Linked DNA regions of Homo sapiens: region 2 is linked to region 1. The links come from fine-mapping of genetic effects on gene expression. Tissue or cell type: whole blood. Region 1 holds a variant in brackets; the other region holds the start of a gene. Each region is shown on its reference strand, or each on the opposite one.

Region 1 (15,984 bases):
CAGACCCACAGACAGACCTGAGGGTGGACACATCTGCCTGTGGACGGCGGACACGTGTACTACTCCTGGCCACATGCCAGATTCACAAACTCAGGGCTCCTTTCCCTTCCCCACAAACATCCCCCAACCTCCTTGATTCTGCATGTGCTGCTCCTCCTGCCTGGAAAGGCCTTCAGCTACAACCAACCTGAAAAATTCCTTTAGGTGCCTGTTTGGGCTCCACTCAAATACCATCTTGTGCACCAAGCTTTCCAGTCAAAAGGAATCCCTTCCTCCCCCCCAGTCCCTGGGGGCTTCCCTTGAACCCCAAACATGACCCTTACTGGCAGCCATCTGGTGTTACAACAACATAGATGCTGACACATCTGTCCCCCACCAGCCATGGGCTCCTCAAGAACAAAGAGCATGTCTGTGTCACAGCTGTACCCCCAGTGCCCAACACAGAGCCCAGCGTGGATGCGGTGCCTCAGTTTCCTCACATGAATCATGGGGGGATAATGGCATCCACTTCATCCTGTCCTGGGGAGGGTCTGATGAGTGAATGTGTTTAGACTGCTATACTTGGAGCAATGCCTGGCACTAGGGAAGCATCGGACACATGTTATTCTCATCAATATGGTTCTGAATGGACTTGGAAGACCCAAGTGAAAGCAGTGCCAGCTTCTATGGGGCACCTACAACTGCCCTGTGTCACCCTGTTTTACAGATGAGGACACTGAGGCCCGGGAAGGGTCACACAGCTAGACAGGGCACAGCCAGGACCTGAGTCCAGGTCTGTGACCACAGTGCCTGTGTCCTCTCCTGCACCATGCTGCTGCAGGCCCTCTCTGTCTCTCTGTCTCTCTCTGTCTCTCTTTCTGCCTCCCTGACGTTCTCCCCACCCAGGGGTAGCTCTCCAGAGGCTGTCGCAGGTAGTGGATGAAACATGGACCTTTTTTTTTTTTTCCTTAAGACAGAGTGCCGTGGTGTGATCTCGCCTCACTGCAACCTTTGCCTCCCAGGTTCAAGCAATTCTCCTGCCTCAGTCTCCCGAGTAGCTGGGATTACAGGGGCCCGCCACCACGCCGGCTAATTTTTGTATTTTTATAAAGACGGGGTTTCACCATGTTTGCCAGGCTGGTCTCGAACTCCTGACCTCATGATTCGCCCGCCTCAGCCTCCCAAAGTGCTGGGATTCCAGAAATGAGCCACTGCGCCCAGTCGGACATTGATTTTTAACAAACGTGGGTTCAAATCCTGGTCTGCCATTCACCAGCTATGTGACCGTGTTGGGCCTGTGGCATCCGCTCCCTGAGCCTCAGTTTCTCCACCGTCTCCTGAGGACTTGAGGACACTGTCTAAAGGCAGGTTTGCCATAGCACTGTGAAAGCATCGGCTTTGGGGCTCCTCACTTGCACAGGCCCTTTTGGAATACAAATTCACTTTCATAGGTAAGTTTGAATTTGATTCTTTTGTCTTCAGGCTCCCCACTCCAGTCTACCCCAAGACTCTCTCTCAGATCCTTCTAGCTGGGATGAAAGACCAGGGGCAGGGTGGCAGAGCACCCATGTTTACCCCACTCCCATACTCTGCCCAGAGGTCGGGGCCTGTCCACCGTTGGGCCTCATGTCACAGATGGGGACATGGCCTGGCAGGGCGAAGGGACTTCAGGAGATCATACAGTAAGTTAGTGTCACAGCCGGACTTGGAGCCACATCTCCCAGCTTCAAGGCTCCCTGTTGTGCTGTGGGGAAGGGGTGCACAGGGCTGGCCCGGGGACAGGGCCTGTTCCTCACTTATGAGTGCCGTGGGCTGGGGCTCAGAGGGTGACTTGGTGCCTTGTAAGGGGGCCAGGGGCAGCTGTGGGTGGGGGTGTCCGGGGATTACTGCTAAAATAAGTAGCAGCTTCCTCTGAAACGCCTCTGTGGTCTGTGGAGGGGAAGGAAGTGGAGGACCGGAAACAGGGGAGGCAGAGAGGTGAGAGGCTGAAACTTCTGCCAGCATAGCAGAGACCAAGCTGGGCACCCCCCACCCACCCAGACACAACAGTTGGCCTCTGCCAGGCTGCAGCCTTGGGGCTGCAACCAGGAGGGCCTGGGAAGCTCAGGCCCAGCCCTAATATGGCCACCCAGAGGCTAGAGAATCCCTCTAGGTTGCTCCTGGCTGGCTGGGCTTCTTCCCTTCCTCAAGACACCAGTCACTTCATGCACCATTCTCTTTGCCTGGAATGCCCTTCTCTACATTTTCCTTTAGGGCCCAACACCAATGTCACCTCTTCTGGGAAGCCTTCCCTGACCACCCACCACACACACACACACACACACACACACACACACACACACACACAGAGAGAGAGAGAGAGAGAGAGAGAGGCAGGACAAGACAGCCACAGACCTTCATCATGAATAGTGGCATTCACTGTGACAGTGGCGTTCATCCAGTGCTTCATGTTTATGAACTGCTCTGCATGGATGATCTCATTGAATGTTTACAAAAACACAATGTGTGGTTCTATCAATAGCTTCATGTTACAGACGAGTGAACCAAGGCTCAGAGATGAGCAACTTCCCCAAGGTGGCATAGTCAGAAAATGGCTGAGTGGGGAGTGTGACCCAGGTCTGACTCCACAGCTAGGTCATTGAACCATGCACTATCCTCTGAGACTGGGATGGGATCAGTGTTGTGCAACTTGCCTGCTCCAAGGAGGCTGCATTGTGACCCTAGCAAAGCTTCATTTTCAGCCTTGCCCTTCCCAGCACCCCTGGAGTAGCTGGGAGCTATAGAGTACTCTAGGGAGAGAGGGAAACCAGCTTGTAATGAGGAAGCATTTCCATGTAAACATTTCTGGTAAACTGTGTGAAGGGATCTCAGAAGTATCTCCAAGCCCTTGATACTGTCTTGGGTTTTGTTTTCTCCTTCTAAATAAATGCTTTTGAATCTAATTTTGTATTCTGTTTCTACAGATGGGGCTTCCAAAATTGAAAAGCTTCAGACTTCACAAATCCTAGGTCCACCCTGCGGTGCCCTGTGACTTAACCACAACCACTGCACTGCCTGGGCTTCCCCAGCCCTCTCCAAGGCCCGCTTTCACTGTACCGGGGTTTTCTATTTATGGATCCGCCCTGCTACCCGCCACTCCCACAACCCCCACCCATAGATGGGCCATGAGCTCCTCATGGGCAGAGGGCGAGCCCTGGTTTCTTGGTACCCTAGGGACTGCTTGGTATATAGAAGCCCAGGACAGATTTGTTACATGAGGGAATAAAGGAGTAAATGAATGAGTGAATGAATGAATATGGGTCCCTTCAATGCCATCAGGAAGTATGAGAGATACAACTCCAGCTTTAAAACTCCAGGTCAGCTGGGTATGGTGGCTCACCCTTGTAATCCCAATACTTTTGGAGGCTGAGGTGGGCGGATCGCTTGGGCCCAGGAGTTCAAGACCAGCCTGGGCAACATGGTAAAACCCCATCTCTACAAAAATTAACTGGGCGTTGTGGCATGCACCTGTCATCCCAGCTACTCGAGAGGCTGAGGTGGGAGAATTGCTTGAGCCCCGTTAGTGGAGACTGCAGTGAACTGTGATCGCACCACTGCACTGCACTGCAGCCTAGGCGACAGAGTGAGACTCTGTCTCAAAAAAAAACTCAAGGTCCATCTCCCTGTGTGCCAACCCTGCATGGGTGTTGAGGGTGACTGACAATTTGGACAGGGTTCAGCTGAAGCCAGTCTCTAGCAAGGAGGCCCAAAGCCCCTCCGGTCACTCTGCTCCCTACAGAGGCAGCACTCTAGGCCCCAGGCCTGGACCTCAAGGCTGCAGCAGGGCCCCTGGCCGCCCCCTATAGCCTTGGAAGCCCCTGAGAAGAGGCCCTTCAGTGCAGCTGCAGCAGGTCAGACGCCTCCTCTGGAGAAGAAGGAAGTGAAAGTGCTGTGGTGGGTGAGTCATCGGAGTGTCCCTCTGGACGGATTGATGCCATGAGTGGCATAAGAGGGACAGGCTGGGAGGGAAGAGACACCAGGGTTAGGAGCCCTTTTAGTATCCTCCAGGAAGGCCCCACCTCACCTCCCAGCCCCTCCCAGACACAGGGGTCTTCAGCTTGGAGAAGAGAATGCCTTGGAGATGCCATCTTTGTCCTAGTCTCTGAAGTGGGTAGAAATTAGACAAGGTCCACAGCAGAGGGGGAAGATGGAGTCAGATGGGGAGGTCACAGAGGCTAACTGGTTGCCACCAGGGCCAGGCTCTGGTGGGCTGGCTGCTGCCTGGCAGTAGTGATGGCCAACAGCAAGTAGGGTGGTCTCCTGCCATGGGTCAGGATGTGGATTCTGGATTTGAACCTCATGTCCTCAAACCCCAGCTCTGCCCCTCATGAGCTGCAGGATCCCAGGCAAGTGGCTTCCCCTCTCCTTCCTCTGCTGTCGAGTGAGATCATAGCACTTAATGCATAGGATGAGCAGGGCATGATTAGATACATTACTGTATGTAAAGTGCATAGAAGAGTGCCCGTTCCCAGGAAACCCACAATAAACAGTAACTACTGTATCAGGCAGCATCTCATCAGGAAGCCTGAAATGCCCTAGGTTTTGAACAGAAGGGATTTAATACAGGGGCTTGTCTTCCAATGGAAGGACTGAGAAACAAAACAGGGAATGGTGCAGCCGCCCAGGGATAGGACTTTGCAGTCATATTCTACTTCCTACTGATGCTCGTCCTCAACCTAGTTGCTTTATGTCTCAGAGCTTCAGTATTTTCACATGTAAAAATGGGAATAAAAAGGACCTTTTTTAATTTATTTTTTTATTTTTTAGATGGAATCTCCCTCTGTCGCCCAGGCTGGAGTGCAGTGGCGTGATCTCGATTTGCTGCAACCTCCGCCCCCTGGGTTCAAACAATTCTCCTGCCTCAGCCTCCCTAGTAGCTGGGATTACAGGCATGTGCTACCACACCCGGCTAATTTTTGTATTTTTAGTAGAGACGAGGTTTTGCCATGTTGGCCAGGCTGGTCTCCAACTTCTGACCTCAGGTGATCCGCCCACTTTGGCCTCCCAAAGTGCTGAGATTACAGGTGTGAGCCACCGCGCCTGGCCGATATTTTTTTTTGAGACAGAATCTCACTCTGTCTTCCAGGCTGGAGTGCAGTGGCGCGATCTCGGCTCACTGCAAGCTCCGCTTCCCGGGTTCAGGCCATTTTCCTGCCTCAGCCTCCCAAGTAACTGGGACTACAGGCGCCTGCAAGCACGCCCAGCTAATTTTTTGTATTTTTAGTAGAGACGGGGTTTCACTGTGTTAGCCAGGACGGTCTCCATCTCCTGACCTCGTTATCCACCTGCCTCAGCCTCCCAAAGTGCTGGGATTACAGGCGTGAGCCACAGTGCCCGGCCGATATTTTGTTTTTAAGAATGAAATAGGATAATGTAGGTAGAGTGTTTGGTAGAGTACTGGCTCAGCGTAAGGACTCAACAATGATCCTAGCAATCGCTTATGCAACACGCTAGTTCTCATGACAGTTCTATGAAGCAAGTACTGTGATCACTATGACTCCTATTTAACAGAAGAGAAAACTGAGGCATGGAGAGATCAAGTCACGCAACTAGTAAATGGCAGAGCTGATCTGAACCAAACTGTTGGGCTCCTAAGTCCCACCCTTAACCATTACACTATGCCCCCTTCCCATTTCACCATCAACAGCTCTCTCCCCAGTCAGCCTCACTCAAGCTCAACGCCGCTCTCCTTCTCAGAATTTTACCCAGGGCCTCCAACTCAGATCAATAACCAGCATCTGCTCCCAAGGGTAACACCTGACACCTGACTTCTCACCTTTTTCCCAGGCCTGGGGCCCTGGAGTCACCAGGGTTTGAGTCCTGACTTTGCCCATTTTCCAGCCGTGGAGCTTGTAGAAGGCACTTCTCTTCCTAAAGCTTCCGTTTCCTCCACTGCAGCATGGGGAGGGAGGCTTGTCCTAAATTTGTTGGCCTGTGGTGGAGACAATTTGAAGCCACACTCACGGAGCAGGTCACACTGGAAGCGTATGTGTGTTCAGTGTGTTCCCTGGAAGCGTATGTGTGTTCAGTCCATGAAACTCTGATCAACAGTTAATCATATCCCCAGAGTCCTGGGGACACTGCCAAGTATTTCTTTGCTTTTCCCAACACGTTCTCAGCCCCTGCAGTGTGCATCGTGGGCAAGTGTGCTGGGCAGTCCTGTGTGCTTGCCCCTCTCCTGCAAACTGCTTTTCCCAGTTTCCTTTGCCAACTGGCTTCCTGTTAGGTTGGGCCAAGGGGAAGCACTGGCAGGAGATTGGAGCATGGGAGGAGGGGACAATCTGGGTATTTCTCCCTCCCTCTGCTTAGGGAGGGAGTGGGAGTGGCCTTTCCCCAGCACAGGCTGCTCTCTTCTGTGTCTTTGGCTGCTCTAGAACCACCCGGTCATCTGCAGTTCCAAGTCTCCAGGTGGCTCTGATGATTCAAGTTACTCCTGGGCAGTATCACTGCCTCTTCCTTTTGTCTCTCCACCCCTAAGTGGTAGCACCTTTTGCCATTGTGGAACAAGCACTTGCCTCACCATTTGCTGTTTGGCTTTTCAGCTCTTCCCTCTTCCAGGTAACCAATTCCCTATATTAAATTTCCTCTGTTGGAAATACCTAGAGTGGTTTCTGTTTTTCTGACTGGCCTTGAATTTTACAGCGGGCATCTTTGGCCCAAGAATTGTCTCTCTCTTCTCCACTTACAGAGTTTTTATCCTAGAGGGGCAGCATCAGACCCCTGAGGGCATGTCACAGGCGGGACTAATGGAAGAGGCTCTAGCTCCTTCTAGCTCTTTGCAGTAAACTTACTACAAGACAGCAAAGCTTTCTCATGCTACCACTGACTGTCTCTTGTGACATAGGTGGAGTAGCATTGCGCTACTCTGCTGTCTCTCTACTTCACCTTCCTGAAGACTTATTGCACAAAGGGTGGGTGGAGCTGTCGAGAACCAGGGGAGAGAAGAAAGTAGTGAAGGGGGCAAAGAAGCCCTTCCTGGCACACTAGCAAAGTGCCTAGTACAGGGGAGGCATTCAGCAGGGTATCCATTCCTTCCCCTTCAGCATCTGTTGAAAATCAGGCTGGAGCCTCAAATATTGGAACCAGCCCTAAGGGGAATGAAGGCTCGTTCTGTGTCAAGACAGCTGCCCCAGGGTTCCACTCCTTAAGGAACAAAGGAGTGGGGACAGACTCCTTTCTGTGAGTAGAGGGGTGGTACTGCCTCCCACCTAGTGTCTCTGGGATTCCTTTTGGAGGCTGCTCACAGATGTCCTCCCACCTTGGCCTCCCCACTCCCATCTGCCCTTCCAGGTTCCCCGGCAGAGGTCCCATCAGTCAGTCCCCTCCCTCCAGCCCATGGTGGTGGCTCACCAGACGGAAGACAGTGGGTCCCTCAGGCCCTTGCTGGGCCTGCCCTATCCCAGGATCTGGGTCCCTAGCTTCATCTGTCACTTCAAAGCTTCCTGTCCCTCAGCCAGGGACTGAGGTAAATTCTAGGCGTTCTGGGCTCTCACTTTCCTCATGTTTGCATGTTCTTTGTGACGCGGTATCCAAGTCGCTGCACAGGTAGGAGGAGCCTGAGGGCTCATCCAGTCCAACCTCCTCCTATGCAGTTCAGATGGGAAAACTGAGGTTCAGAATAGAGACTTGCTGGAAGCATGAAAGTAATTGACAGGTTGGTAGGGGCACAGGGGGTGAAGCGTGTGACAAGCTGGGCCAAAGCTCCAGGGACACGGGTCCTACACTGGCACTTGCGTGGACATCCATGTTACCTGCACTCATGTGTAGTAAAGAGGTCATGCGTGTTTACAAACCATAGTACCACCACAGAGACCACAGGCCCAGCAAATGGGGCTCACACAGGCATGCACACACACACACGTATCCTTGATGGTAAACATGCCCACCCACCATTGTGCACACATGCGTGTATTTACACCCACATGCACACTCATCGGCACACAATCAGAGCCACACACCTGCACGTGCCCCCACAGAATCACACGTGTGTGCAGTCTCACCTATCTGCACTCTGCCATGGGCCCCATTACATACATGCATGCAAACAGATAACACACACGCCTATCAATAGCCAGGATGACTCACACACGAGGACACACATCATACCCTCACAGACTCGTGCATGGACCACCCTGCAGTCACAAAGCAGCATCCAGCATCCGACAATCTGCTGATGTCACTCCCCTGAGAGTAACCATGGCTCCATGCATAGGCAGAGGCAACTCAGCTCACAGGTGCCGCCTGTCCACATGCAGACACAGACACACACACACATACACACACACACACTCTGACAGTTCCCCAATGGCCAGCCTCCTCCACTGACTCCCCACAGCCAGGTGCTCTGACACCCTCCTTGGTGGGACCCTCTCTCTTCAAGGCGCCCAGAGCCACCTGGCTGTCCTTGGAACTAAGTGAGCACCCTGCCCACCCCCAGCCTTGTCCCCTAAACTGGGTGGTTTAGGTCTGAGGGGTGGGGAGAAGGCTGCCCAGAGTCCAAAGTTCAGGGGCCAACATCTTGTTTGCAGGCGCTGGTGGAAATTGCACAACCTGCCAGCTGGGTGACTTGGGCTTATTGTCTCTGAGTTCCCCT[T/C]GGCTGCAGGCCCAAGCCCAGCCAGTGACCTGTTTCTCTGGAAGAGGGTGGGGAAAGTGGTTCCTCCCTCCCCTGCCTGGGGAACTGGTGGCCCTCCCTGGGCACTGGTGGCTGGTCCCCAGCTATGTGTGCAACACACCTGACACTGAGATGCACAGAACTCAGCATCCAACCTGTCCTTTCCCAGATAGGAAACTGAAGCTCAGGGAAGGAAAGGCTTGCCCAGGGTCACCCAGCAAGGAGGCCCAGGAGGACTGGAACTCAGGCTCAGTTTCCTTTCTTTTCTTTTCTTTTTTTTTGTGATGGAGTCTCACTCTGTGGCCCAGGCTCGAGTGCAGTGGCGTGATCTTAGCTCACTGCAACCTCTACCTCCTGGGTTCAAGCGATTCTCCTGCCTCAGCTTCCTGAGTAGCTGGGATTATAGGCACGTGCCACCACACCCAGCTAATTTTTTCATATTTTTAGTAGAGGCAGGGTTTCACCATGTTAGCCGGTCTGGTCTCAAACTCCTGACCTCAGGTGATCTGCCCGCCTCGGCCCCTCAAAGTGCTGGGATTACAGGTGTGAGCTACCGCGCCCAGCTCAGTTTTCTTTCAAACCCTTTATCAAAAGAAATATAATCCAAAGCCAGACAGTACTAATGCAAATGAGCAGAGCTACCGTGGGTGCAAAAGGAAGGGACCCCAGAGCCCGTGAGTAGAGACCACTTTCCCTTTCCACACCTACCGTGGCTAAGTCAGTTAGTCAAAGGGTCACTGTGCCATATCACCAGATCATTGAGCTTAACAAATCTATCCCGACTTAAAACATTTTATTTATTTATTTATTTTTGAGACAGGGCCTTGCTCTTGTCACCCAGGCTGGAATGCAGTGGTGCAATCTCAACTCACTGCAGCCTCAACTTCCCGGACTCCACCCATCCTCCTGCCTCAGTCTCCCAGGTAGCCGGGACCACAGGCATGCACCACCACACCCGGCTAATTTTTGTATGTTTTGTAGAGATGGGGTTTCGCCATGTTGCCCAGGCTGGTCTCAAACCCCTGGTCTCAAGCGATCTGCTCACCTTGGCCTCCTGAAGTGCTAGGACTACAGGCATGAGCCACCCCAGTGAGCTTTTTTTCATTTTGTTTTAATTTGTAAAAGTTCCCACTGTGTGCATGAAATGAATTAGCAAGGCCATCATGGCTACGGGGGGTCAGGATCTGGGGCCTTCAGATCCCTCTCACCTCTGGGACCTGCAGCCCAGACTGGGCTTAGATCTCTATTCTGTTCCCCTCCAGTGGCAGCATCAGGGACATGGGGTAGAGACAAACTGAACATTCCTGAAAATCCAAGAAATCTTCTAAAGCTTTAAAAACCCATCCCATGCCTGCCTGTCTTTTCCCTCTCCCCTTCGCTGCCTTTCTGTATCTCTCCCTTCTTTCCTTTCTTCCTCCTGCCTGCCTACCTTTCTCAGTGCATCCAGTCAAAATCATGAGGCTCGAGGATGACAGTCACAGTGGCCCTTGTGAGGCTGGACCTGGGCGGCAGCCTGCTGCAATCAAAGATGGGTATGCACCGGGGCAGAGCAGAGGTATAGCTTAGCATGGACAAGAGGATTCAGGTTTCTCCTTGATGAGGCAGGGAGGCACAGATGCAGAAAGGAGGAAACCAGCTGGGTGCGGTGGCTCACGCGAGTAATCTCAGCACTTTGGGAGGCGGAGGCAGGCGGACCACCTGAGGTCAGGAGTTCAAGACCAGCCTGGCCAACATGGTGAAACACCGTCTCTACTAAAAAATACAAAAATTAGCCAGACATGGTGGTGTGCACCTGTAGTCCCAGCTACACAGGAGGCTGAGGAAGAAGAATTGCTTGAACCCGGGAGGCAGAGGTTGCAGTGAGCCGAGATTGTGACACTGTACTCCAGCCTAGGCAACAAGAGTGAGACTCTGTCTCAAAAAAAACAAAACAACAACAACAAAAAAAAAGCCAGGTGCAATGGCTCACACCTGTAATCCAAGCACTTTGGGAAGCCGAGGCGGGCGGATCACTTGACGTCAGGAGTTCAAGACCAGCCTGTCCAGCGTGGTGAAACCTGATCTCTACTAAAAAATACAAAAATTAGCCATGCGTGGTGGCGTGTGCCTATAATCCCAGATACTCAGGAGGCTGAGGCAGGAGAATCACTTGAACCCAGGAGGCAGAGGTTACAGTAAGTCGAGATCACACCACTGCACTCCAGCCTGGGTGACAGAGTAAGAATCCGTCTCAGAAAAAAAAAAAAAGGAGGAAACTGAAGAAGCCCATAGTGTTGGGCTGGAGTTGGAGCTCTCAGTGAGAACACATGGTGAGAATCTGTGTTTATGTGGAGAGAGAGAGAATATAGACAGAAAGGTGTGTCTATATATATACATGTATATGCACCTGCATGCATATGTGTATACATATATGCATATTTGATGTGTGTGTGTGTGTGTGTATTTTCAGCTCTGTTCACCAAGAAGGTATGGGAGCAGCAATGCTCTGGTAGCAATGAACATACCCAGTGCCAAGATCTTGTTTTCAAAATGCCATTTGGAGGAAGGCTGAGTCCTGGCTGGGAGAGAGGAAGAACAAGATGAACCTGGAACACCTTGTTGTGGCAAAAAGTCACTAAGCATTCAAAGCATAGTGTGGACATGTCAAAGGGACACAGGGGCCAGCTGGATGGGGCCACACCAAATCTGGTGTAATTGAAAAATCAAAATTAATAATGATAGCAATGAATGATAACCCACTGAATAAAATAGAAACCCCTGACTCCAACTGCTATAAACAAAAAAACGAATAAGTAACCGGACAGAAGAGAAAGCTTTTCCTGACAGTAGAATGTCAAATCATACAGAAAGAAGGAAAACCACCTTTGTCAAATATGATCATAATTATTATTTCAGGTAAGAAACATCGATGGAACCAGGTTAAAACTAGGGATGTAAATGGAGTGAAGAACAGGATATTAGCTTAGCACTGGAGCCCGGGAGTTCCAGTTCAGCCTGGGCAATATAGCTTGAGCCTATCTCTAAATAAATAAATAGACAGAAAATGAACAATTCTAGGAAAAACAGAAAGCTGCACAAGAGAATAAATGCAATCACAGTACTCTACATTGCTGGGCTATCAACACTGTTCACATGGCCACAAAATAAACCCCCAATATTTATCTAACCAAAAATTATGAGATGAGATGATCATATAAGGAAGATGGTACCAGGGGAAGTAGGGGCAGCGTGGTATGGGAAGCAAATTCTAATCTTCCAAAGTAAGAAGAGAGTAGATTATACATAAAACTGAAAGTCCAGAAATAACGGTATAGACATGTGATAACAGTGGAAGCATAAAGGCAAATAAAAAAGAAACTTGTTTCTTGTTAAAAAGCAGTTACCTCTGATGGTTGGGAACTGGGAGCAAAGATGGATTAGACAGGAGACAGCTGTTTTTCATTGTTAAGTCTTGCAGAACAAAATGCATGTAAAATTTTTTGAAAGTGAAATCAAAATATAAAAATATAATTAAAAGAAATACATGTTTAGGCCAGGCACAGTGGCTCATGCCTGTAATCCCAGCACTTTGGGGGGCCGAGGTGGGTGGATCACTTGCGGTCAGGAGTTCGAGACCAGCCTGGCCAACACGGTGAAACCCCATATCTACCAAAAATACAAAAATTAGCCGTGCGTGGGGGCACACTCCTATAGTCCCAGCTACTCAGGAGGCTGAGGCAGGAGAATCACTTGAGCCCAGGAGGCAGACGTTGCAGTGAGCCGAGATCATGCCACTGCACCCCAGCCGGTGGGGCAGAACAAGACTCAGTCTCAAAAAAAAAAAGAGAAATACATTTTGAGATAAGCAGTAAATTTGGATAATTGGTTGAGTTGACCATTTAACAAAATCTTCAAAGGATCCTTCAGATGCTAAAGTTCTGATAAGACAGAAAATTACTTTTTTTCAGAGGTTTTTAAAAACAATCAGTCTAAAAGCTAAAGTTCCCATGTGATACTGTGAAAAACATATTCATAGGATATTATTTAAGAAGAATAGACTGGGTACAGTGGCTCATGCCTATAATCCCAGCACTTTGGGAGCCTGAGGTGGGCGGATCCCGAGGTCAAGAGATTGAGACTATCCTGGCTAACATGGTAAAACCCTGTCTCTACTAAAAATACAAAAATTAGCTGGATGTGGTGGCACATGCCCGTAGTTCCAGCTACTCAGGAAGCTAAGGCAGGAGAATCACTTGAACCCAGGAGGCAGAGGTTGCAGTGAGCTGAGATCGTGCCACTGCACTCCAGTCTGGTGACAGAGCGAGACTCCATCTAAAAGAAGAAGGAGGAGGAGGAGGAGGAGGAGGAGAAGGAGAAGGAGAAGAAGAAGAAGAAGAAGAAGAAGAAGAAGAAGAAGAAGAAGAAGAAGAGGAGGAGGAGCACTAGAAGAGCAAATGTATTATGAACTTTGGACAAATTAAATAGTCCTTAAAATGGAATATAGCCATTGGAAGAATGTACATTAAACATAATTTTAAAATTTTTCTTTTTTTTTTTTTTGAGACACAGTTTCACTCTTGTCACCCAGGCTGGAGTGCAATGGCGCAGTCTCGGCTCACTGCAACCTCCGCCTCCCGGGTTCAAGTGATTCTCCTGCCTCAGCCTCCTGAGTAGCTGGGATTAGAGGTGTGTGCCACCACACCCATAGAGATGGGGTTTTGTTCGCCATGTTGGCCAAGCTGATCTCGAACTCCTGACCTCAGGTGAATCACCCTCCTCGGCCTCCCAAAGTGCTGGGATTACAGGAGTGAGCCACCATGCCAGCCAAAAAGAATATTTCTTAAACAAGTTTTTGAAAAACCAGTCAATTCGGTAATATGAGGCAGTGGTCCTTCAATGAGTTTTGGAGAACTGCCTTTTGTCCAATCGGCCTTTGAAGGTGTGGCAGCTTCCCCTACACCTGAAAGAGGTCCCACCCCAGGACACAGGCCCTGGCCTTGGGCATGGCAGGCCAGTCTCCCCCAGACCCACCCACTGACAGCCTCCCAGCAGGAGGGAACTCACACTCCTCACAACAGCACTTTGTGGTGTAAATACAAAACCCCATTTTACAGATGAGAAAATGGAGGCTTGAAGAAGTGAATTGACTTGCCCAGCGCCTCATAGTCAAAAAGTAATCAAACTGGACTTGGCACACAGGTTGACAAACCCCAAGGCCAGGATTCTCTCCTTGCTCCCCCAACCCTTGGATCTCCCACCTGCTGGCGCCAGACCTAATTAGGAGCTCTGCTGGCCCCTGAGGTGGGTTGGGAGGTGGGTGTGTCATTAGATTGTGAGATTCTGGAAGCTCCCGCCATGTGTCATTATGTCTAATTACATGAGTTCAGGCTTCTGCGTGGGCTGGTGGAGCCAGAGTGTCTCCGTGCCCAGGTGGCCAGGGAATTTCTGCAGCCAAGAAGTGGATGAGAGGCCGCTGAAGGACCCCGGTAACATGTTCCCCAAATCTCCTGGAGAAAGCCGAGTTCCAGGCCCCTCCCGGAGGCTGAAGGGTGGCCCCGATGGGGAGTTGGGGTCTCTCCATGCTTCTCGGGGTGCACTTAACCAGACTCCTACCTGGGCAGGGAATAGAGTAGAAGGAAATGGCTGCATGAGGGGCACAGCCCCTAGTCCCCTCATCCCAGCCCCAGACGGACAGACTCACACATGCATATGCACACACAAAACACAGAAACATGGTGTTGGAACAAATATCTGGACTTTTTTTTTTGGTAGATGAATCTGCTCTGTCATCCAGGCTGGAGTGCAATGGCATGATCTTGGCTCACTGCAACCTCTGCCCCCTGCTGGGTTCAAGCGATTCTCCTGCCTCAGCCTCCCAAGTAGCTGGGATTAAAGGGGCCCACCACCACACCCAACTAATTTTTGTATTTTTAGTAGAGACGAGGTTTCACCATGTTGGCCAGGCTGGTCTAACTTCTGACCTCAGGTGATCCACCCACCTCGGCCTCCCAAAGTGCTGGATTACAGGCATGAGCCACCATGCCTAGCCAAATATCTGGACCTTTGAGTAAAGAGCTGCTTACACTTTCATCAGTTCCACTGGGTGTTCACTCTGGGGGAAAGGCAAGTGAGAAGGAACATGGAATAGGGACAGAACGTGGTCACTGTCCTCCCTAGGCAGACATGGGTGAGGGAGGCGATCTTTTGCACGTGCTCATTTAATAAGCAGGTATTGGCCGGTCATGGTGGCTCATGCGTGTAATCCCAGCACTTTGGGAGGCCGAGGTGGGTGGATCACAAGGTCAGGCATTCAAGACAAGCCTGGCCAAGATGGTGAAACCCCAACTCTACTAAAAATATAAAAATTAGCCACGCGTGGTGGCGGGCGCCTGTAATCCCAGCTACTCAGAAGGCTGAGGCAGAGAATTGCTTGAACCTGGGAGGTGGAGGTTGCAGTGAGCCTAGATTGGGCCACTGCACTCCAGCCTGGACAGAGCGAGACTCCATCTCAAAAAAAAAGAAAAAAAAAAAAAAAAGCAGGTGTTGAGTGACTTCTGTGTGCCAGGCATTGTTCTAGGCATTGGGGTTATAAAATAAAGTCCCTCTTCTCAAGGGGAGAGAGACAATAACCATACACTAAATATGTAATGTACCAGATGGTGACAAGCAGAGTGAGGGTGAGGGGCCACTGCTCATAGATGATTATCTGGCTGGAGAAACAGTCAAACCTTTCCCCACTGACTTCCCAAACCCAGAGGATAGATGGAGAAACGACTTGGGGAATAGAAAAAAGGACCCACCTCCCCAGGTGCCTTCTCCTCCTTCTTCTCTTCTCCCTCTCCTCTAATGTTGTTTTTCCTTTAAACGTTACTTAAAACAGACCAGGCTCAGTGGCTCACGTCTGTAATCCCAGCACTTTGGTAGGCCGAGGTAAGAGGATCACTTAAGGCCAAGAGTTTGAGACCAGCCTGGCCAACATTGCAAAACCCTATCTTTATGAAAAATACAAAAATTAGCCAGGCATGGTGGTGTGCACCTGTAATCCCAGCTATTTGGGAGGCTAAGGCACCATAATCGCTTGATCCTGGGAGGCGGAGGTTGCAGTGAGTGGTGATCAGGTCATGGCACTCCAGCCTGGGTGACAGAGAGAGATTCTGTCTTCAAAAAATATACAAATAAATTTTTTTAAACAGTTACTTAAAACATACGGGAGGTGTAGAAAATTATATGACAAATACTCATGTACCCGCTACCCCTGTTAAAAAATGAAACTTTAGGCTCGTAAAAAAATAAAAACTGGCTGGGCGCGGTGGCTCATACCACGGCACTTTGGGAGGCCGAGGTGGGCAAATCAAGAGGTCAGGAGTTCGAGACCA
Region 2 (15,036 bases), not on the chromosome of region 1:
TTTTGGAAGTCAATGCTGGGGCTTGCTAGAAAGAGCCTGGCCTGGGAGGCAAGAGGCATGGTCTGGCCTCTAGTCTGCAGAAGCCCCTCCACCTCTCTGGATGTTTCCTCAGCTATAAAATTACGGAGTCAGATGAGCTACTCTCTTTTTTTTTTTTTTTTTTTTTTTTTTTTTTTGAGACAAAGTGTCTGTTGCCCACACTGGAGTGCAGTGGCGTGATCTCGGCTCACAGCAACCTCCAACTCCTGGATTCAAGCGATTCTCCTGCCTCAGTCTCCTGAGTAGCTGGGAGGGACTACAGGCACGCAACACCATGCCCAGCCAATTTTTGTATTTTTAATCGAGACGGGGTATCACTATGTTGGTCAGGCTGGTCTTGAACTCCTGACCTCATGATCCACCCGCCTCAGCCTCCCAAAGTGCTGGGATTACAGGCGTGAGCCACCGCGCCCGGCCTGGATGAGCTACTCTCTAAGGTTCTGCCTGGCCCTGCGTTTTCTGTATTCTGAGCCAGAACCCAAAATGACTTGCCTCGGTAGCCCCTGTTCGCAGACTGAAAGCTGATGCCTGGCTCTGGGGCCTCTGCCAATGCTTGGCCCAGGCTGAGTCGGCTGTTTCATCCCTCCTACTGCTGTGAAAGTGGAGAGGGGGCCAACTCTCCAAACCCAAGGCACTGGTCACAGGAAGGCAAGCTTTGATGTCAGGACTCCCGTCAGGCCCAGCTAAAAGGCTTTGGACTTCCCCAGGAGTCTCCTCAGACAGAATGGCTCTGTGCTAACAGAAGGGGACTCATGAGTGCCTTTTTCTGGGCAAGGCTGCCAGGGGAAGGGGAGTGATTAGCAGTGTGTGGCATGCAGCGGGGTGATGACACTGAGGGGGTCACTGGAGTGTGAATGTCATTCCCCCATCATCGTCAACCAGGCCATATTGGTACAAAAGGTGTCTTTATTGAGGTCTGGGTTAAAATTAGGCACTTGGCCAGAGCAGCAGCTTAAATATGAGGCAAGCAGTCAGGGGTTAGCCATGCCTGGGGCTGGGTTGGGGTCATGAGGCTACAGGCACAGACTGTCCCCAGGTGGACAGAAGTTGGAGCAGGAAGAGGAGGAGGAAGGGGCCGCAGAGCAGCCTGGGTCAGAGGCCTGGTGGGCCAGCCCAGTGGGACTAGGCAGGAAGCTCTGGGTGGCAGGTCCAGCAGGGAGGGGACCAGGATCTCTTGCTCCACGTGCCCCTTAGACCCAGGCCTGAGCCTCTGGCAGGGGCAGCCGCACTTGGCAGGGCGGTCTTCCCAAGCCTCACTTCTTCACCTTGGCATCGTAGGTGCCTGCATTCTTGTAGGCGCTCACGTAGCCACTGTCGTCCAGGATGTCCTGCCGTCCCGCAATGCCCTTGCCCTTGCCGCTCTCATCGAAGCGCTCCTTGTGGGAGCCCGTGTATCTGCTGGTGTCCGTCAGCCGGTCTACAGCACCCCCTGTTTTTGCTTTCTGTTTGGACAGAGTTTCCCCAGGGGCACCTGATGAGGGAGCCCAGCCCTTCCCACCCACAGCCACGATTCCCCACACCCCATTCCGTGGCCACCCGAGACCAGCAGGGCACTTACAGTGACGCCCACATTGGCTGGCTCTTTGCCTGCCACCAGCTGGCAGATGGCATCGAAGGCCTCCTCCTTGCTCTTCCCCTTGAATCTCTTGGTCGCCAGCTCTTCCAGGGCCTTCTTGAACTCCTCATAGTTGATGACCCGAGCAGACTTCCCCCTGACAGGCATGTGGGCACCATGAGGGTTCCCCTTTCTTTTTTCTCCCCCAGGGGAAAGCTCAAACACATTTGCTGCCACCACAAATTATGCAATTGCGTTTCTTTCCCACGTTTGGGGAAGTCGCAGGGGTCAGCAACTCTGGAGGGCAATAGATATAAGGTTTGCCCTGGAAGAACGACCTTCGTGATCATGGTGTTTCCCTGACCCCTTCTTGATGTCCTCCCTGGTTCCAGCCCCCCAGTTCCCCACCTCCTGGGAACATGAGAAGCAGGGGCTGCTTAGGGCTCACTTGACTTTGGAGAAGACGATGTCCACATCGGTCCCTGTCACGGACTTTCCGTCAGCCACCTTGCAGTCCTTGCACAGCTTGGCCCAGTTCTTGCCATTCATCTCTTGCCCACTGGCCTTGGGGTCACCATGGATGGCAAACTTGCGGAAGCTCTCCTCCAGCCCAGCCATGTCTGTGCTCGCTGCCATGCCACCCTATAGAGACCCACCTGGGTCATCTCCCAGCCAATCTGCCCTTCCCCTCCCCCAAGCCCAGAACATCCCAGCCTCTACCTCAAACCTGCAAGACCTGGGCAGGTTCTGCTACAGAGTTGGTGCTGGAGCTGCCTGGGGAGAGGGGCCCGTCACTGTCGCCCTGGGCCACAGAGCCCCAAGGAAGAGCCCCGGGAGGCACGGTCTTGTCACTAATGCCAGCCCTGGCTCTCAGCAGGGTTCAGCAGATGAAATAATGATGCCCACAGGGAACAGAGTGGCACTGTCCAGAAAGACTGTTAGGGCAGCAGCTGGGGCCCTGGCTTTGTCTGGCCCTGGCACAAGGCCTTGCTTGGGTGGAAGTGAGGGTGGCAGAGCAGGCCCCCTCCCTGGAAGCTCCATGCCAAGCTGGCTTGGGGCCAGGCCAGGCTGCTGGTCGGGCAGGCATTCAGTGAGGACAGCATCTCTGTAAGGGTCATGAGGACCCAGCAAGAGCCAGTCTGGGCACGGGTGCATGCCCTGGGCAGGGGTGCAGCTGGTCCAGCAAGGCCTTGTTACTATTTGCTGTTAAACAAAAACATGAGGGGAGCTTGGGGCTGGCCTGGCCACAGTTTGTGAAGCCTGGAGACGGTTGCTAAGGGAGGGTGGTGCTGCTTGGAGAATGTTGCTAAGGGCAGGATGGTGTCAGGGCAGCTCAGGGAGAAGCTCCCAGTGCTGAGGGGCTGGGCTGGGCTGGGAAGCTGGGGCCCACGGGTGGGGCACGCCAGCACTCCCTGCGCCTAGGGCATAACCGTGGCTTCCTGGCCCCTTGCCACCGACTGGTGCTGTAACCTCCCACTGTGGAGTTTTGGGGGAGCAGGAGGTTGGGGGCTAGTAGCGTGGGGGCTGTAGAGTTACGAACCCCAAGAGTCGTGCTGGCAAGTGGGGCTGTGGCTGAAACACACTTCATCATGTCTACACCTCAGACCTCCCCTGGCCACGCCCTGAACTTGGCCACACCAGCCCACATTCCCAGCGACCCTGTGCACTCAGCCCTGGCCTGCCACCCCCTGGGCCTTGTACCCCTGGCCATACCTTCAGCCCTCCATCCTCCATCTTCACACCCACAGCCACAGCCCTCGGCCACCAGCCCCCACATATATACTAACAAGCCTGCGCCAACCCCAGTAATACCCACAGTCCAGCACTAAAGTGCCCCCCACACCCACAGCCCTCCGCTGCAGACCCCTGGCCACACCCTGAGCCTACACAGCAGCCTTCTCCATCCCCACACCCGCAGCCCTGGGGCTGAGGCCCCTGGCCACAAACCTGCATCCCTTCCTGAGACCCCTGACCATAGCCTCAGCCACTCACCCCCTCCAATACCCGCAGCCCTTTATCAAGGCGCCCTGACCCTCAGCACCCCTTTGTCCACACACCCTCAGCCCTCTGGCCACACCCTCAGCCTGCACTGAAGGCCCCAGTCCACATCCACACACTAACATTATAAGACTCCCAGGTACTATGCGGAGATCCCCTGCGTAGAGACCTCCCCACCACATCCCCCTCCTCCACTGCCACCTCCTGACCACACCCTCGGTCTCAGCAACCATCTTCTAGCTCTGCCTTTTACACTAGGGCTTCCAGTGACCACGGCCTGGGCTCTGCCCGGCTGCCCCATCTTCCACCAAAAACTCCTCGCCAGTGACCACACTCCCATCCCTAAGTGGCAGTTTCTGGGACTGTGAGCACCGGTGGTTCCTACGTTACAGGGACCATAACCCCAGTCCACGCTGCACTCCCCTTCCCTTTCCCTGGGTGCAACCTCCCACCAGGGACCCCAAGACCCGCACTTGGTTCACCAAGGGTAACGTCCAGGGGAGCTTGGATGCCACAGGGTGCTTGGCCCAAGCACTGGGCGGATCCTGCGTGCAGTGCTCACTCCTGTCCGTGGAAAGATGGATTCTTGGTCATCTCAGCGCGGTCAGGTGGCGCTGGGTTGCAGGCCGCAGCCCCATGGGTCTGCAGGCCATGGATGGAGTGGCCACACCCGTGAACTGGAGCCACCCGTCCCGCTCCCACTGGGACAGCTGGAGTCATCAATCAGCCGGACCAGGAGGTGGGGGCTGCGAGGTGGAATGCTTGGGGCCAGGGCAGGGCCGCTCAGCTGGCTCCTCGGCTGGGACCGCCGGAGGTTGGGACCCTTTCCAGGCTGCTCCCCCCAACCCTCATCGTGCAGGATACTGATTGGGGTGGCGGGCATCTGGGTCTCCTATGGGCTTCTACCTCGCGGCTGCTCCTGAAGTGTGCGTTCGGAAGGACAGAACGACGCAGGAATGGACCGATGGACGCGGGAGACCAGGCGGCTCCGCAGCTCCGCTCCCTGCCGGCTCCCGGGTGGGACTGCAGCCCAGGCGGCTCCGCCGTATTATCCCCTGTTTCTCGGTCTCCATAGAGACGGCGAGTCCCACCCCCGAGGCTGTCTCGGCGGGAGAGTGACCAAGGTCACGCCGGCCCCGCCCACGAGGCCCCGCCCTCCCCGAGACTCTCCGGGAGCCGCATCCCGCCCCTCCCCCGCAACTCCGCGGTCCTCGCGACGGCGAGACCAGCGCTCTGCAGTTCGGGGCGTCTTCGGACGGCCCCCTGAGGAAACAGCCTCCCATCCTGGGATGTGCCTAAAGCTCTAAGCGGCCCCAATCTCCAGAAGAGATCCAGCTCCCCAGAGAGTCAACCAGAGGCCACTGGGGAGCTGCGCGGGGCATTGGTGGGGCTTGGGGAATCGGGAAGGAGCTCTCCCTCAGTGACAGGGGTATACGGTTGACTCAAGAGCACTGCCATCCACTGAACGGATGGCACCCCCAGGCCACAACTCCCGTGCTCTCTTGGGTAGGATTCAGAGCCTGGAGCAGTGGGGAAGAAGGGAGGGGACTCCCTACGAGCGAATCGCGCTCGCCCAGCCCCAGGATGCTGGCATTCGACGGCAGCCCTGCTGCCGGGGAAAAGCTGCGGGACCTCCTGGCTCGGCCCCCTCCTTTCGCCGCCACCTCCCCACGGCCTCGCAGCCTCAGCGCCCACTGCTGCTTTCGGAGCCCAAAGCCTGCTTTCTCTCGGCCTCCCAGTGCAAAGCCCATCTTTAAGAAAAATAACCTCCTCCAGGCCGCCTTCTAAGGCCTTTCCTAACCACGAGCCGCACGTGAGCACCTCCACAGGGCAGCCTGGGTGGCTACCTACTATACAGGGACCTCCTCCCCGCCCCCGGTCCACTGGCCAGGGTCGGGCTTCTGGATGGCCCGTGGCCCCTGCCATTAAGAAAGTAAGCGCGACGTCCGCAAAAGCATAAAAAAGTTTATTGGAGCATCACAGCCGGTGGGGCGGGTATTGCTGAGTCGTGGGGGAGGGAGGCCGATCCCGCCGGCCGTAGGGGCCCCTAAAGTGCACTCGGTGCGGCAAGGATGGGGTGTTGCATAGAGAGTCAGGCCGGCCGCTCTAACTCGGCCCTCCGGCCTCTCGGCCCAGCTAAGCCAGACCAGCCTCCCGGCCGCCCGGCGCCCTGGGCTCGCCGCTGCTCGGGCTCACGAAAACGGCGGGCGCACGCGCCTGCCGCGCCAGCGTGGGCTGTCGGCCCCGGCCCCGCGGGGCGGCCAGAGCGGCGCTGCCCAGGCGCGTCTGCGCCACTGGAATCTCGTCCACGGACTCTGCCGACGCCGAGTGGTAGGCGCCGGCAGGGCCAGCGGCGTGCACAGGGCTGGCGTCCGCGGAATCCGTCGACGAGCTGGAGCGGCGGCTGGGGGCCCTAGGCCCTGCGCAAGGGAAGGGAACATGAGCCCAGTGGCTGCGGCTCGCTTGTGGCTCTGCCTTCCCCTCCCTCGAGTTCCCAGAGCAGGACCCGGACAGGGAGAGGCGCTCACCCGACGCCGGATCCGAGGTCTCAGACGTTCGCACTTTATACACGCGCCTCTTCCTCTTTTTCTGCAGAGACACGGGGGAGCCTGAGGGCCCCACATCGCCAAAAGAAGCAGAGGCGAGCGCCAGGGTAGAGGCTTCTTTCTATCCCACTCCACCTGGACCGGAGGCCCAGCACAGTCCCTCCTACCTGGGGTCGGATCCGGGGAGGCAGGGCGAGAGTGTCTGGGGAAGAGGGTGGTGGAGGTTCCGCTTGGCCACGGGTGGCAAGAAACTGGGAGGGACTGAGGGGGAAGCAGGAGGGTAAGCCTGGGGCCTGTTCCCCAAATCCCTCCCCACTGGAGGTGCTGAGAGAAGCTTCCCTTCCTGTTAGCTCAGAGAAGGGCCTGACCCATGCCCCGACCTTAGCCTACCCCCTTCTCCTGCCTCGATGGCCCTGCCATGCTAACTGGAGATGCCCAGTGGCACATGCCCAGGTTGCACTCACTTGGCATTCACTGCTGCTGGCCCGGCCTGGCCAGGGGGCTCTGGGCGCATATGTCTGAAGGTCCGCATGTAGAACTCCATCTCCTGGGGAAGGTGGAAGTCAAGGAGGCTGGGAGGCCAGGTGTGGCTCCCGAGCCTGCTGAGCCCTAAGCCCACGCAGTCCTGCCCTCATTGGCCTCTGTGGGATATCTCAGGCCTCATGCCAGGCTCCCAGCCATGCTGGGAAAACCCCATCTGTAGGGTAAGGCTTAAAACACCCATTTCTGGCCCTTGCCCCATCCCCAGGTCCTTACCTCATCTATTCAGCCTCTGCCTCCTGCAGGAAGGCTCCCAGCCCCCATGGGTCTATAGGCCCAGTTTAGAGAGGCTCAGCCAGGGAGTGGTGGGAAGCTCAGAGCTGCCCGCACCTGCTCCTGGTGTCCCCAGGGATCCAGCCTCTGAACCAATTGTTTTCCCCTGGCTGAGAAACAGGCCTGAGTGTGCATCCACCAGCTCCCGCAGAGCTGAGTCCTGGGCACACCCCTCGCCCTCACAGAGGACCAGCCACGATCCAGGCTGCCGAGAAGGGGCTGCGTAAATGCACATGCGGTGGTCTCCCTGCCACTACACCAAAAGGGAAGGTAGCAGGTGGTGGAACAAACAGAGCCGCAGCCCCACTGAGCACCAGGCTTATGGGCAAGCCCTGATCTTCACAGCAACCCTGAGGGTGCAGACGCGACCCCTGAGAGCAAAGGGGCCTTGAGGCCAGGGGGTTGCAGGAGTGGCCTAGTCCTGCACCCCCGCCCGCAGGACTCGCCCCAGCTTTGCCCAGAAGGACTCCAGGTGAGGAAACAAAAGCCTGGGGAAAGCAGGCCCGGGAAGGGCGTGGTGCGAGATGGGGGCGGGTCCCGGGCGGGGTGGGAGCCGGGAGGGGTTGCCGGGAGCACCCGGACAGCTGTCGCCAGTTCAGCAGCCGTTTCCATGGAGACGGAGGCGTCCTGACTAATGCAGAGAGGACACTGTAACAGCAAGGCCGTCTCTAAAACAAGCCTATGTTTGGGGGCAACGGCTCCAGAGAGGGGCCCCTCCCGCATTCCTGCTGGGGTGGGGGTGGGTGGCTGCCTGCAGGGCCCTGACAGATCTGGGGGAGGAGCCCAGCCAGCGGCCCCGCCCAACCTCTGCCCTGGCTGCTGCTCTGGAGAGGGGTGTGGGGGCGCCAGCCTGGGCCGAGGAGCGCGGGGTCAGGGGTCAGAGGCCAGTCACAGGGACTGGAAACCTCAAGATCACTCTCCCCCACACCTCTTTTCTGCCCCAGTGTGGACTCAGTGACCCTCTAGGGCCAGCAGAGGGGCAAAGCCCACTGGGGGGCCCTGGGCTCCAGAGGGGGGAGCAGAGGAGGGGCCAGCAGTAGAGGAGGTCTCAGAAGCTGAGGGGCCTGGATGGGAAAGGCGCCAGGCCCTAGCCAGCTCAAGAAGTCTGAAAGCGTCCCCAGTGAGTCCCCACTCAGAGCCCTGTCCTCTCTCGCCATGGCTGTCCAGAGGATACTGTCTCAGAGACCTTCAAAACCGTGTACATTCCTGAATGGTACTGGGCCCTCAGCCTCAGCTCTCTGCTTTGTAAAAGAGGACAAGAACACCACTCCTGTCCCCCGGGTTTGCCTCCCTCAAGTCACTGCAGATGGACAGAACAGAAATTAAATGTCTTCGCTGTGGCCACATTTGGCCCCAAAGCCTTGGCAGCGCAGGGCCAAAGAGCCCGCCCTGCTTCAGTGGGTGCTGCCTATGAGGCTTGAGAAAGTCTCCTGCCTACTTCTCTGGGCCTCCGTCTCCTCTTGATGTGGGGCTGGAAACAGTACCCTCTCCCCAGCACAGCTGCCACCATCAGAGCCCAGCACTGGGGCAGGTATACGGTGGTGTAACAGTGGAGTCGCCACCCACAGCCAGCATGCCCCAGGCCCAGGCCTGCCCAGTCCTGGCAGCCTGGCCCACAAGTAGTGTCCAGCCCTGGTGACAAGAACAGAAGAGGTGGGGTCCTAGGCCCTCCCCAACCCACCCACCAGCCTCTGTTTGTGTCCAGTTGCCATGAGGCCTCGGGATCCAGGGCTCAGCCTTCCCCCAGCAAAGCCTGCCCGGGCCCCGCCTTCCTAGTCCCTAGGGGCTCCTTTGACGACTGGATCACCCCCACCCCAGCGGCTGACCTCAGGAAGCCATGGGGCGTGGGAATGGGGATAGGCTGGTCAGCCACTGGCCTGGCCAGGCCGGCCAGAGCGTAGAGACCTTAACTCTTCCCAGACCCAGCTTGTGGTTAACCTTCTAGGCCTCAGTAGGCACATCTGCAGAAGAGGCTGTTCTAAGCATAAATTAGGGTAATGGGTATAAGCGCTCAAGGTCATGGATGAGGAGAAGTGATGGCTCCATCCTGGCCACCCATCACTGACCCCGTCGCTGGTCCATCCCTCTCTCTCCTGCTGCAGCCCCAACCTGCTTGCTTCCAGGCTCCCACATCCCATGCCCTCCCGCGCATGCTTGGCGCCTGGGCAGGTGTGTACGTGGGGTCCGGGAAACACAGGGCTCCCTCTGGCTGTGCCCACGCTTGGGCGAGCAGGCACACGCTCAGCACAAGCCCGGTCCCTGCTGCCCCCAGCGGCTGTTCCAGGCTTGCCTCCCTTGCCCTGTCTCCTCACTGGCTGCTCGCTGCACAGCCCAACACCCCCCACACCCAGGCCCCCTCCCACCCTTCATCCTCTATACCTGAATGGGCCGCATCTTGGGAGGACATGACTCGAGCTCCCTGTGAACCCCCTTGGCCTCCTGTGGTGGGCGGTGCTGCACGATGTACTCATAGGTGGTGAGCTTGTGCCACACTGGTGGGGGGAGGAGAGGGCTCAGTGCGGTGGAAGGGGGACTCTGGAGCTCAGAACAGGAGGGAGGACAACCAGCCCCAGGCTGAAACCAGTGTCCCCAAATACACGAAGCCATCAGGTGAGACCTGGCCACCATAGTGAGCCCATACTAGGCAGGGGCATGGTTTCAGGGTCCACCGTCCAACTGGGCACCTTCCTGCAATCTGAGGACCCCTGCGTTCCAGAAGGCAGGTGCAGGAGGCACTTACTGAGATAAATGTGGAAGCAGAGCAGGTGCCCCAGGAGGGCTGTGGACAGGAGGCCCAGAAGGATGAGCAGGGCGGCCAGGGCCAGGATGGCAGGGGCCTGGGTCTCCACGGGGGCGGCAGGCAGGAACACGAACCACACATCCGTGTGATTCTTCAGGACTGCAAGGCACAGGCAGTGTGTGCTCAGCCGGGGACGTGACGGGTGACCAGGGTTGGGGGTGAGAATAGGCCCGGAGCCTAAACTGACCTTCAAAGTGTCGGTTGGTGCGCAGACGCATGGGGTTGACAAAGAACTCCACGAAGACATATGTGGCCACCAGCACCAGGAGCAGGACGCCCAGTAAAGCGGATGCAACACTGTGTAGAAAGAGCCTGGGCCCAGCCATGGGTCGCTGTCAGCTCCCCGGAGCTCCAGCCTCAGAAGGCCCATAGGAGTTGGGGCTGTAGGGTCATTGCTATGGGCTCAGAGGGCTGAGGGTGACCCCACAGCCCCAACTCCTCAGAAGCCAAAGGCATACGGCAAAACTGAAGATGGGTGGCCACCCCATCAGGCAGCCCACATTTCTCTGGGCCAGCTTGGTGGAAGATTCCAGGCCCACCCTTGGCCATCTCAGCCGGCACCCAGGAGCATCACTCTCTCTGGGCAGCACCCCCGCATAAAACGGGCACAGGTCCTCGAAGCATCCCCATCCCCGCCCGCCTGCCATGCGAGCTGCAAGGTCTGTGGCTCCCACCCTCAGACAGTGCATCCCCAGGCCCGCGTGCGGCCGGGCTGTCCTCACCGGTAGTTCCGCTCGCCCACACAGTTGTTGAGCCACTTGCAGTGGTGGTCGAAACCGCACACGCACTTGTTGCAGGCGCTGCAGTGCTTGGAGCGAGCGCTCCTGCAGGGAGAGGGGGCACAGCGCGATTGGCCGGCTCATTCCCCGCTCTGCGGCCCGGCCGGTCGGGGTGGTTGAGTGGGGTCTGTGGAGGGACCAAGCGCCAGGCCTGAGACAGCCCCGAGCGAGGCGACGAGGAGCGCGCGCGCCCTCTGCAGGCGCTGCGGGGTGGGTCCCCTGGAGGAGGCAGCGCTCCCGAAGAGCTGGGGGACCCCAGAGGCCGCAGGAGGGGTAAGGAGGTGCACCCCTCCTGCTCTGGGATTGTGCGCCTAGCTGATGCGCCATGAAACAGAAAATGGGCGTCCTTTCCAAGCAAAGACCCCGAGAGAAGCCAGAAGATGCAGGTGTGGGCCCAGGGAGCTGCAGACAGCAAGGCTTGGGCCCAGGGCCTGCACTGCCCTTCCCGACACCTCCGGCAGTGGGCCCCTGTTTCCCTGCCATTCTATAGGAATGGTACTGGCATTTTTCCAGAAACTTCAGTCTGTGTGGACTAAGAGAAAAGAGGCAAAAGAAGTGCAGGCTGCCATCCGCGTGAGCATGCAGGTGCTCACCACAGGGGCTCAGGGGAAGTCTCCCAGCCCAGGGAGGCACCGGGGAAGGCCCAAAGGCACAACCCCTCCCCCAGAACAGGGCAGAGCCCTGCAATGGGCAGCAGCTGCTGGAGCAGCTGCTCGGAAAGTGTGCTGGCGGGTGCCCAGTGAATGGCAGGATGGCCTCATGTCCAAGTCCTTGGCGCCTTAAGGCTAGGGGCTTGCTCAGTCTGCAGACAGACCCCTTCAACAGGCTTCCTGGTGGGGGCTGGCCTTGGGCCATATCCCCATCCCTGATCCCCCACCCGAGACCTGGAGACTGGGGGGCTCCAGAAGGGTGGAGAGGGGCCCCTAGAGAGGTAGCTGGGACCAGCCAAGGTGGCGGGGCGCAGCACGTAGTGACTCCTCCATGTTAGCAGAGGGACCTGAGCAAGCCAAATGGCCCCCCTGGGCCTCAGACTCCTCCTGGGTAGACCCCAGGGCAGCAGTATCTGCTTAGGGGCCTGGCCGGCCAGATGTGAATCTGGCTCCGCTATCAGTGGCTGTGTCTGGCCTATCAGCCTTTCTAAGCGCTGGGCTCTTCCTCCTCCATGAAGTGAGAAAGCCATGCGGGGTGGCTGCAGGAAGAGCTCAGCACACAGTGAGTGTCAGGCATCAACACCCCTGCCCACCCCTATATGGGAATACTGGCGAGAGATGTGAGGGTGTCACTGGCAGAGCCGCTCATTAGAAATGTTTGGGCAGGGCCAAATGTTTCCTCCTTTAACTGCTGGAATACTACTGATCTTCTGTTTCCAATCACCTTCTCCTCACCTTCTCAGTAACCCAATACTCTGTCACGCCATCAAGGTTCTTGACTGCATAAAACATGAGGGTTCTGAGGCATCAGGGATGTCTGTGAAGCCCTGGCACCCCCTCTCCACCATACACCCCACAGCACACTCGGCAGCCACAAGCACCCACACACACTCACACATCCACGTTGCACAAGTTGCAGTGCAGGTCTTCAATGACATGTGCGTGCTGGCTTCGGTTGAAGATGGGCAGGGGCCCCGCATAGCTCTTGTCCCGCACGTTGGCATCTGCTGGATCGATGGAGACGGCGGTCAGGTGCACCACAAGGTGGCCAGCAAAGATGGCGCCCATGCACTGGCCCAGCAGGTTAAAGACTCACTCCACTCTGCCGGCTGGGAGTCCTGCCCCGTTCCTTGCAGCCAGAGAACTCCCCACTGCCATGCCAGCCCGCTTTGTGCAGATTCTCTGCCTCTGCCACCTCCTACCTCCAGTCCCCCAAAGCCTCCTCATCAGACCTCTCCAGGTAACCCCTATGCCCCAAATGGAAAGAGGGAGAGGCCATCTAGGAAAGGAGTCCACAGCCAGCCAGCAGTGCCTGCTGTCGCCACCTAGGTGCCCAATCGCAGGGTCCTGGCCTCACTGCTCCAGGCCTGGTGCAGGCCCTGGCTGGTCTGACCTCAGGCTGGTTTCTGGTTTCAGATTCCAAATGGTGATGTGAGACTGAAAGAGATCAACCCCACCTAAGGTCCAAGAACCTGAAGTTTAAGTCCCAGCTTCCTTATCTTGCTTTCATAGGAAGTCACCTCCAAAAGGGATGCAGCCACCCCCCTTTTCAGTAGCTGGGCCAGATGGAGAACCCCTTGCAGACACGGATTCGGACACTTGCTACCTCCCCTACCAAGAATCTAGGCACCTGGAGTCCTGGGCTGAGTGTCTGGAATGGCCTGCCATGTTCAGGGCCTGGCCAGGGACAGCATGGCTAGTCTCTGAAGCTGAAACAGCTCTTCCAGGATCTAACTGCTCAATGACTGGGCCAAATGCAGGAGACAAGTTTGCTGACAATTTGCTACAAAGTCTGATGTTTAAAAATTCACCCATAGATTCCACCCAGGCAGCCATCCACTCTCCCTCCCTTGATCACACCCACTTCAGCCCAAAATTCCACTGGTCCTCTTGCTAGCCAGGCAGACATCATCCCTCCATCATTCATGCTCTACCCATCATCCATCTGCCATCCTTCATTCATCAGCTGTCCAATCTCTTTTCCTCCCTTCCTCCTCCTCCCAGCAGCCAAATTTCTCTACATATCTGCATAAACCAGGCTCCGCCCTAATGTGCCATAAGCATAGCTAAGAGAGACAATCCTGTGGCCATCACTACCCCTTCTATCCCTATGGCCAAGTCTTCATCTCTTGCCTGTGCCACTCTATAGCCTCCCAACTCTGCGCCTTCTGTCTGAGTTCCCTTGAGTCTATGCTTCACATGGTCTCAGAGTAAGTTTTTAAAAGCTCAGACCCAAAGCCCTCCCTGCTTGCAACCCTACAGTGGGTCTCAACAGCTCTCTGACTGAAATTCACTCCTCTGCTCAGTGCTAAGGTCCCTTTCCCTCTGGCTCCTCCCAAACCTCTCTGCTATCACCAGCTACTGTGCTCACCATGCCATCCACTCTTCAGACACTGAATGAGGGCAAACATTTACTCCCTGCCTGCTCCAACTCTTCTCCCGCCTCACCCCCAGGGTCATTCATTCAGCTGTCTACTGAGGTCTTTTGTTGTGACAGGCATTGAGGGATACGGCAGGGGCAAGAGTCCCTAGCACTGAAGAGACTGCAGTCTGGTGGAAAACATGGAATTTTTTTTTTTTTTTGAGATGGAGTCTCGCTCTGTTGCCCAGGCTGGAGTGCAATGGCACGATCTTGGCTCACTGCAACCTCTGCCTCCCAGGTTCAAGTGATTCTCCTGCCTCAGCCTCCCGAGTAGCTGGGACTACAGGTGTTCGCCACCACGCCTGGCTAATTTTTGTATTTTTAGTAGAGCCAAGGTTTCGCCATGTTGGCCAAGGCTAGTCTCAAACTCCTGATCTCAGGTGATCTGCCTGCCTTGGCTTCCCAAAGTGCAGGGATTATAGGCATGAGCCACCACTCCTGCCCAAAAACATGGATATCAATCAAATAATGAGTTAATTACAATGAAGAAAGTTCGTGGGACTATGCCAGTTTATAACCAAATGACCTCATCTAGTCTGAAGGGGTCCAGAAGGCTTACCTGAGGAAGTATTGTCTCAGCTGAGACAGAGAGGAATGGATTCCAGGGACCTGGCAGGCAAAGAGGAAAGGGGGCCTGGCTAGGGACTGTGGCTGTGGGGAACATGTGGAGTGCCAACCAGCAGTTTGGCTGAAGTGTGCCTCCAGCTCACGGCTGTCTTGCAAGAATGCAAGAATGAGGGTCTGTGTGGCCAATTTCTGGCTTCTCAAAAGGAACCAGAAGTCTGGGTTTTTATGTGAGATCTCTCAATGTTTAAATGTTAAGGAAATAAATAATTTAAAAAACATGCCTATAGAAGGAACATTAAGATCTGTGCATTTTCTTTGTTAACTATCCTTCAATTCAAAAAAACAAATCTGCAGGCTGGACTGGCCCATGGGCTGCTAGTTCTCGGCCTCTAATTTAGCTGCGTGTTGGGAGCAGGGAGAGAGACAAGGGGCTTCCGGGCAGAGACCAGTGCCGTGGAAACAGAAGAGGACAGGGAAAATCACATCAGAGGAAATGGGGGAGAGAGGCAGAGTCCAGAATGCGGAGCCTTGACGCCATGTTGAGCCTCATTTCTTTTGTTTTTTGTTTTTTTTTTTTGAGACAGGGTCTCCCTCTGTTGCCCAGGCTGGAGTGCAATGGCGCTATCTCGGCTCACTGCAGCCTCCGCCCCCCGACCCGGGTTCAAGCGATTCTCCAGCCTGAGCCTCCCAAGTAACTGGGATTGCAGGCGTGTGCCACCATGCCCAGCTAATTTTTGTATTTTTAGTAGAGATGGAGTTTCGCATGTTGGCCAGGCTGGTCTGGAACTCCTGACCTCAGGTGATCCATCCGCGTCGGTCTCCCAATATGCTGGGATTACAGGTGTGAACCATCGCGCCCGGCCTTGA

What was found. PIP is the estimated chance that this variant, and not a neighbour inherited with it, causes the effect.
Region 2: TPPP3 starts here. The variant in region 1 is the best candidate, but not a certain one, in a credible set for the expression of TPPP3 in whole blood (TOPMed, PIP 0.58).

Annotation. Positions count from the first base shown.
Region 1 is chr9:124,214,968-124,230,951 of GRCh38, forward strand. No RefSeq gene overlaps it. Among named protein-coding and RNA genes, the nearest start is that of NEK6, 35 kb to the right of the region's middle. RefSeq lists enhancers at 2,064-2,143, 3,053-3,212, 3,783-4,142. The variant T/C (reference allele first, on the strand shown) is at 8,612.
Region 2 is chr16:67,388,882-67,403,917 of GRCh38, forward strand. It overlaps TPPP3 (tubulin polymerization promoting protein family member 3), which reads right to left and starts at 4,617. Exons shown (of 4, transcript NM_015964.4): 1 at 4,499-4,617; 2 at 2,043-2,236; 3 at 1,598-1,751; 4 at 928-1,481. The coding sequence starts at 2,230. The coding sequence ends at 1,293. ZDHHC1 (zDHHC palmitoyltransferase 1) reads right to left here. Exons shown (of 12, transcript NM_001323627.2): 4 at 12,076-12,251; 5 at 10,474-10,575; 6 at 9,939-10,063; 7 at 9,692-9,850; 8 at 9,331-9,443; 9 at 6,603-6,685; 10 at 6,306-6,399; 11 at 6,121-6,181; 12 at 5,271-6,012. The coding sequence ends at 5,729. It also overlaps the pseudogene RNU1-123P.